Linked DNA regions of Homo sapiens. The protein of the gene in region 1 interacts with the protein of each later gene in a biochemical or structural test. Each region holds a gene or a part of one and is shown on either strand. Other genes may lie near its edges. The genes, in order: WNK4 and SGK1.

What was found.
Region 2: of the proteins of WNK4 (region 1) and SGK1, one has a biochemical effect on the other in vitro, tested with the Homo sapiens proteins (one study listed by BioGRID).

What each region holds. Positions count from the first base shown.
Region 1 is NC_000017.11:42,790,535-42,794,334, forward strand, and holds part of WNK4 (serine/threonine-protein kinase WNK4), read left to right. Parts: intron 1-3,057; coding exon 3,058-3,195; intron 3,196-3,800. UniProt on the Homo sapiens protein: Serine/threonine-protein kinase component of the WNK4-SPAK/OSR1 kinase cascade, which acts as a key regulator of ion transport in the distal nephron and blood pressure.
Region 2 is NC_000006.12:134,258,944-134,262,765, reverse strand, and holds part of SGK1 (serine/threonine-protein kinase Sgk1), read left to right. Parts: intron 1-617; coding exon 618-833; intron 834-3,822. UniProt on the Homo sapiens protein: Serine/threonine-protein kinase which is involved in the regulation of a wide variety of ion channels, membrane transporters, cellular enzymes, transcription factors, neuronal excitability, cell growth, proliferation, survival, migration and apoptosis.

The DNA.
Region 1 (3,800 bases):
GAAGGGAGATGAGCCGGCAAAGCCAGAGACACAGAGGGTTGCAGAGTGTGTCTCAGCGCATACCACCAGTTCTGGAGTGGGAAGCGGGAGGGTAGGTCATCGAAGGACACAGAGACAAAGCCAGAGACGTAGGAGGATGTTAGTCAAAACTGAGTGAGGAGAGAGTTTCAAGGAGGTGGCATAGGATGAATCCTCAGGCAAGACCACACTGGCTTTTGTTAGGAGATCTTTGTGGGAGACCAGTTTCAGTGGAGTGGGGGTGGTGGATGCCAGCCCATGGGGTGAAGGAGGGAAAGGAATGGGAGAAACACCAGGCATCAGGAGCCCTCTCTAAAGCATCTCCTCCATCATGTCATTCACCTTGTGTCCAGGACAAAGACACAATATCACCTGGCACACAAGGCTCATCACCTTCCGTCAAACCACTTGACTCTTTCAGAGTCTTCCATCCAGCCACACTGGTTTCAAAATGGGCCTCTGAAAAGGCTGGGTGCCTTCCTGCCTCTGCCTCCACCTCCTTAAGGGTCTCTCACTCGTAGAGCCTTCTGTATTGGGCTTTCAAGTCCCCTCTGATCCTGCACAGCCAAAGTGACCCCACCCCATGCACCCAGAGTCCTTTGCCCTCTTTTCTCTCCTTACCCAGTCCACCCTCCACTCCTCTGCAGCAGAATTCTCCTGAGACTTGGATCTGATCTCTTGATATTCACCCGAAATTATTTAGTGGCTACTTGTGGTTGTAGAGTAAGGTCCAAATTCCAAAGCCTTTAAAATTCACAGCACATTCAGCTACACTTGAGTCCTCACTATTTTAAGAATAGGCTGTGCCGGGCATGGTGGCTCACGCCTGTAATCCCAGCACTTTGGGAGGCCGAGGCAGGCAGATGACCTGAGGTCGGGAGTTCAAGACCAGCCTGACCAACATGGAGAAACCCCGTCTCTACTAAAAAATACAAAATTAGCTGGGCGTGGTGGCGCATGCCTGTAATCCCAGCTACTTGGGAGGCTGAGGCAGGAGAATCACTTGAACCCAGGAGGTGGAGGTTGCGGTGAGCCACGGTCATACCATTGCACTCCAGCCTGGGCAACAAGAGCGAAACTCTGTCTCAAAAAAAAAAAAAGAAGAAAGAAAGAAAGATTGAATAGGCCGGGCGCAGTGGCTCACACTTGTAATCCCAGCACTTTTGGGAGGCTGAGGCAGGTAGATCACTTGAGGTCAGGAGTTCGAGACCAGCCTGGCCAACATGAAGCCCTGTCTCTACTAAAAATATAAAAATTAGCTGGGCATGGTGCCAGGCAGTCCCAGCTACTCAAGAGGCTGATGCAGGAGAATCTCTTGAACCCAGAAGGTGAGGTTGCAGTGAGCCAAGATTGTGCCACTGCACTCCAGCCTGGGTGATAGAGCAAGGCTCAGTCTCAAAAAAAAAAAAAAATAATAATGTACCATGCCTTTCATGCTTCAAAGCTACTACACTGTTCTCTCTGCCTAGACTGCTCTTCTCTTCCTGATGAACAGCCTGGAATAGAGGAAGGGGTCGCTTTCATGTAATACCTAAGTTCAAACTTCAGCTCTGTTATTTACTAATCCAATGAACTTAGGCAAGTTTCTTAACTCTGTAAACTTCAGTTGCATGTAAGTAAAATGCAGATGATAGTATTTGTTTTGCAAAGATGTTCTGATACGACACAGTGTAATGTAGAAGTGTCCACACATGGTAGGTCCTCAATAGAGATTGCTTTTCTCATCTGTCAATGTTCAGCTCCAAAGACTTACTCTGTGAAACTGCTCCAGCTTCCCCCTATCCCCAGGGTGGTATTCTGTCTTTGGAATAGCATTTTAAAAAATTGTGATTAAAAAACCATAAATATAAAATTTACCACCGTAACCATTTTTAAGTGTACAGTTCAGCAATATTAAGTATATTCACATTGCTGTGAAACAGATCTCCAGGGGTTTTCTTACCTTGCAAATCTGAAACTCTGTACCCATTAAACAACTCTGCCTCTCCACACCCCCATCCCCCCAACCCTGGAACAACATTTCTATCTATATCTCACTTGTAAGTGCCTTACGTATTACGGGCTGCCTTGCAGTAAGTTTAATTACGTATTTATGTGTCTCCTCCACTAAGTTTTGGGCTTCGTTAAGCCTAGGACCTTGTTTCATGCTTCCTTGTATTCCCACAGTACCCAGCACAATGCCAGCACATAGTAGGTGCTCAATAAGTATTCATGGATTTGAATGTGACATTTGCCATTTATTGCCTTATTCTGACTTAACCGTGTGGGATGGGTGTATGTGGGCCTGTGTGTTATACTTTATAAACACTATGGGGCAGAAATTGTGTCCAAAACATGGGAGGCAGCAGTGAAGATAACTCAGGCTCTGGCTTTAGGTAGATGTGGGTTTAAATCCTGTGACCTTAGGCAGACGGAACTTAACCTCTTTGAGCATTGGTTATCTTAATTCTACCATAGCAATATTAATGTGGGCCCCAGAAAGTTACTGGTGGTGTTAAATGTGATAATATACGCAAAGCAGCTGGTATATATACGCATCCTATGAATGTTAGCACCTTTCCTTCTAGGCTGTATTTCTCCTTACACCACACAGTGCCTGGAACACAATAGGTATTTACTTGTTTTAGGTTGGTGGTTGGCAGGAGCAGTAGTGTGAAGGGTGGATTTTTTATTTTTATTTTTTTGAGACGGAGTCTCGCTCAGTCGTCCAGGCTGGAGTGCGGTGGTGTGATCTTGGCTCCACCGTTTCCCAGGTTCAAGTGATTCTCCCGTCTTAGCCTCCCAAGTAGCTGGGATTACAGGTGCCCGCCATCATGCCCAGCTAATTTTTGTATTTTAGTAGAGATAGGGTATCACCATGTTGGCCAGGCTGGTCTTAAACTCCTGACTTCAGGTGATCCGCCCGCCTCGGCCTCCCAAAGTGCTAGGATTACAGGCGTGAGCCACCGCGCCCAGCCTGATGTTTTAAGATCAGAAGCAGGGGGAGAGGGATGAGTGAGATAACAAGCTCTCCCTCCCCATCCTGTTGACCCTCGCAAGGTATATAACGAGTTCATTCTGCCTTCGGAGCGAGATGGATTTCTCAGACGGATTCGGGAGATTATCCAGCGAGTGGAGACCCTGTTGAAGAGAGACACTGGCCCCATGGAGGCTGCTGAAGACACCCTAAGCCCCCAGGTCAGACCCCTTGGTGGACACTTCCAGGGGAAATGGACTCTCTGCTCCAGGGTTTATTACTCTCTGCCCTCAGCGGTCCCCTTGGATTTAACTCCTCTTCATCTCTGGGACCCTAAAACAGTGGCGCTTTTTTTTTTTTTTGAGATGGAGTCTCACTCTGTCGCCCAGGCTGGAGTGCAGTGGCACGATCTCGGCTCACTGCAAGCTCCGCCTCCCGGGTTCACGCCATTCTCCTGTCCCAGCCTCCCGAGTAGCTGGGACTACAGGCGCTCGCCACCACACCCGGCTAATTTTTTTTGTATTTTTAGTAGAGACAGGGTTTCACCGTGTTAGCCAGGCTGGTCTCGATCTCCTGACCTCGTGATCCGCCCTCCTCGGCCTCCCAAAGTGCTGGGATTACAGGTGTGAGCCACCGTGCCTGGCCTAAAACAGTGGCTCTTAGCCCATTTGAGAATATGATGAAAGCCATGGACTCTTGTTCTAGAAAACTTGTTCAATACATACTTTTCTTTTAACTCATTATTTTGAAATAATTTCAGACTTGTGGAGAGAAGTTGCAAGAATTATATAAAGAACCACTGGATACCCTTTGCCCAGATTTGCCA
Region 2 (3,822 bases), on another chromosome or scaffold:
CCAGGGTAATTGTTTTTGTTTGTTTTTGGGTTTTGAGGGTTTGTTGTTGTTGTGTTGTTGTTGTGGTTGGAGACAGTCTTGCTCTGTCACCCAGGCTGGAGTGCAGCGGGGCTATCTCAGCTCACTGCAACCTCCGCTTCCCAGGTTCAAGCGATTCTCCCAAGCAGCTGAGATTATAGGCGTGTACCACCAGGCCTGGCTAATTTTGGTATTTTTAGTAGAGATGGGGTTTCATCATGTTGGCAGGCTGGTCCAGGAGGATCTTTTAACACCAAGACCAGCCTGGGCAACAGAGTGAAACCCCCCTATCTCTAAAAAGAAAAAAATTCTAACCCCACTGGAAGCAGGAGGAAAAAGAAAAGAAAAAAATAATGTGAAAAAAAAATGCGGAGACAGACTCAGCAAGATGAAATGACCAGCCATGTAATGCATACTCTAGGAAAGAGACTGAACAGCATTGACCAATTCGAATTGTGTTGAGTTTGAAAGATAGACAGGTTGTGAGACCGAGTTCTCCTTTCATGAGCTCCCATCCCACCAGATTTCCCACCAAATCCCCAATAAACATCAAAGGGAGTCAAACACATTTGTTTTTTCTTTCCTTTTGCACATTGCAGGTACGAAGGTGGATCAAGAGCCCAATGGTCAGTGTGGACAAGCATCAGAGTCCCAGCCTGAAGTACACCGGCTCCTCCATGGTGCACATCCCTCCAGGGGAGCCAGACTTCGAGTCTTCCTTGTGTCAAACATGCCTGGGTGAACATGCTTTCCAAAGAGGGGTTCTCCCTCAGGAGAACGAGTCATGTTCATGGGAAACTCAATCTGGGTGTGAAGTAAGTTCATGTTCGCTCTGGATCTATTCTCCTGGAAAAATTCTGGGCCTTTGTTTTTCTTGTATTTCTGCCAGAGTATACCCAAAAAATAATTTTTTAATGCATATTTATAAAGCTTCTGAGGAAGACCTAGAATTGTGGTCTTTGTTAGCTCATTATGTTATTTTTTTAAAGTAGGCTTTATATTTTAGAGCAGCTTTAAGTTCACAGCAACATTGAGCAGAAGGTACAGAGATTACCCATATACGCTTGTCCCCATGCACGTATAACCTACTTTGCCATCAACATTCCCTAGCAGAGTTTTATGTTAGAGTTCACTCTTGGTGTTATACATTCTATGGGTTTGGACTAATGTATAATAACATGCATCCACCATTACAGTATCATACAGTTAAGTTTCACTGCCCTAAAAATCCTCTGCCCTCCACTATTCATCCCCTCCTTACCCTGACCCCTAGCAACCACTGATCTTTTTACTGTCTCCATAGATTTGCCTTTTCCAGAATGTCATCTAGCTGAATCATGCAGTATGTTGTATTAATGTTTTACGTGGGTCCAAGACTGATACAGCAATGTGTTGGTAAACTGGCAATTCCTCAGAAGTGGTTTGATCACACAGGAGATCAAGTCTTAGATGATACAACGATTGTAATAGTCATCTACATGTTCGTAGCTTCCATTGAAATATTTAGTTCAACACGATTTGATCCATTTACAGAGCACTATGTATACTTTTCATTATTTTTCTCAAGCTCATATATACTCACATTTTTACTAAGACTTATTTTCCCTGCTACTCCAAGAGTTGTTTTTTAAAAATTTTGTTAATCCAAGAAAACCAGATAACTGATTCATCTTGCAGTTTCTAAGATTTCAAAAATTTAAGATTATATTTTTAACTTATAACTTAATTAGGCCCATATTTATTTTGATTTTTAAAACCATTATATAAAATGCTTATATTATTTTTACCATCATACTGACATAAAAATACAATATTTAGAAGACAGAACATGTTATTACAAAGTACAGTTAATTGTAAGTGATCTTCCAAGTCAGTGCATCATAGAATGATAAACGTTAATAACCGCTCACCTTTTTTATTTTTAGCAAGGTAACCATTTTCCAGAGATAAAATAATCATTTAGCTGCTAAAAGACTGAAGACATTAAATCTGAGTTCCTTTTCACTCTGAGTTATCACGCAATGTCGCTGAATCTGTTTCATAATTTGTCTACTTTCTTTCTTTCTTTTTTTTTTTTTTTTGAGTTTCACTCTTGTTGCCCAGACTGGAGTGCAATGGCACGATCTCGGCTCACTGCAACCTCCGCTTCCTGAGTTCAAGTAATTCTTCTGCCTCAGTCTCCCGAGTAGCTGGGATTACAGGCACCCAACACCACGCCTGGCTAATTTTTGTATTTTTAATAGAAACAGGGTTTCTCTATGTTGGTCAGGCTGGTGTCAAACTCCCAACCTCAGGTAATCCACCTGCGTCGGCTTTCCAAATTGCTGGGATTACAGGCATGAGCCACTACGCCGGCCCTTTTTTTGGGGGGGGTGGGGGTCGGGGACAGGGAGACAGGGGGACAGAGTCTTGCTCTGTAACCCTGACTTGAGTGCAGTAGTGCAATCATAACTCACTGTTACCTCAAACTCCTAGGTTCAAGTGATCCTCCCACCTCAACCCTCCCAAGTAAATAAGACCACAGGCATACGCCAACAAACCTGGCTAATTAAAAAAAAAAAATTTTTTTTGTAGAAACAGGGTGTTGTCATACTGACCAGGCTGGTCTTGAACTCCTGGCTTCAAGTGATCCTCCCAAAATGCTGGGATTATAGGTATGAGGCACAATGCCCAGCCTACTTGTCTACTTTCTACGGTTATTGGAAAAATCAAATGAGATTGATATGAAATGTTTCATAATCTATAGAATGCCATGCAAATATAAATCATTATTGCTCATGTTTGCTGATTTACATATTAGCTAAGCCTGTGACTCTGTAACACTATATTAGACTTCCATAACTGGGTTAGCACTTTGCTGATCCATGAACATTTGTCATGGTGCATTTGCTTTTTAGCCAGATGTTGGTTCAACTCTAGGTTTGTCATGAAAAACAATAAAGACGCTAAATGCAAGAGCATCTATTTATCGCTCCTGATGCAAGGGATAGAGTCAACTTTTTATCTAAACGGCCAGATAGTAAATATTTTAGCCTTTGCCTAAAATACAGTCTCTAACTTCTATTTAGCTCTGCCCTTCTAGGGAAAGCAGCCATAGATAATATGTAAATGAATGGACACAGCTCTCCCAGGTTGGAGTGCAGTGACGAGATCTCAGCTCACTGCAACCTCCACCTCCCAGGTTCAAGCAATTCTCCTGCCTCAGCCTCCTGAGTAGCCGGGATTACAGGCATCTGACACCACACCCGGGTAATTTTTTTTTTTTTTTTTAGTAGAGATGGGGTTTCACCATGTTGGCCAGGCTGGTCTTGAACTCCGGACCTCAAGTGATCTGCCTGCCTCAGCCTCCCAAAATGCTGGTATTACAGGCCTGAGCCACTGCGCCCAGCCTGAGTTTGCCAATTTCTTAGACTCTAAAGAACTATTTATGACTTAGAAGCAGAGAGAGGGTTCTACATATCCTATACAGAGCACACATGCCTAGTGCTAAATGTTTACTTGAGGGCCTACTCTATGTCCCATTTGATAGGAGCTGGGTTTAAATCAATGCAACAGTGAAATTCCACACAAAAGGAAACAATAAACAAAGCTGAAAGGAATTTAAAGCAACATTGTGATTTACCCTTTTCCTTTATCTTAGATAGCAGGTAAATCATTCTCCAATTTGCAATCGATTACCTGGTTCCCAGACTTTGCTGGCTTTTTCCTAAGGTTATCACAAATCAAAATGACACATACTTTATTTTATTACTTTTTTTTTGAGACAAGGTTTTGCTCTACTGCCCAGGCTAGAGTGTAGTGGTG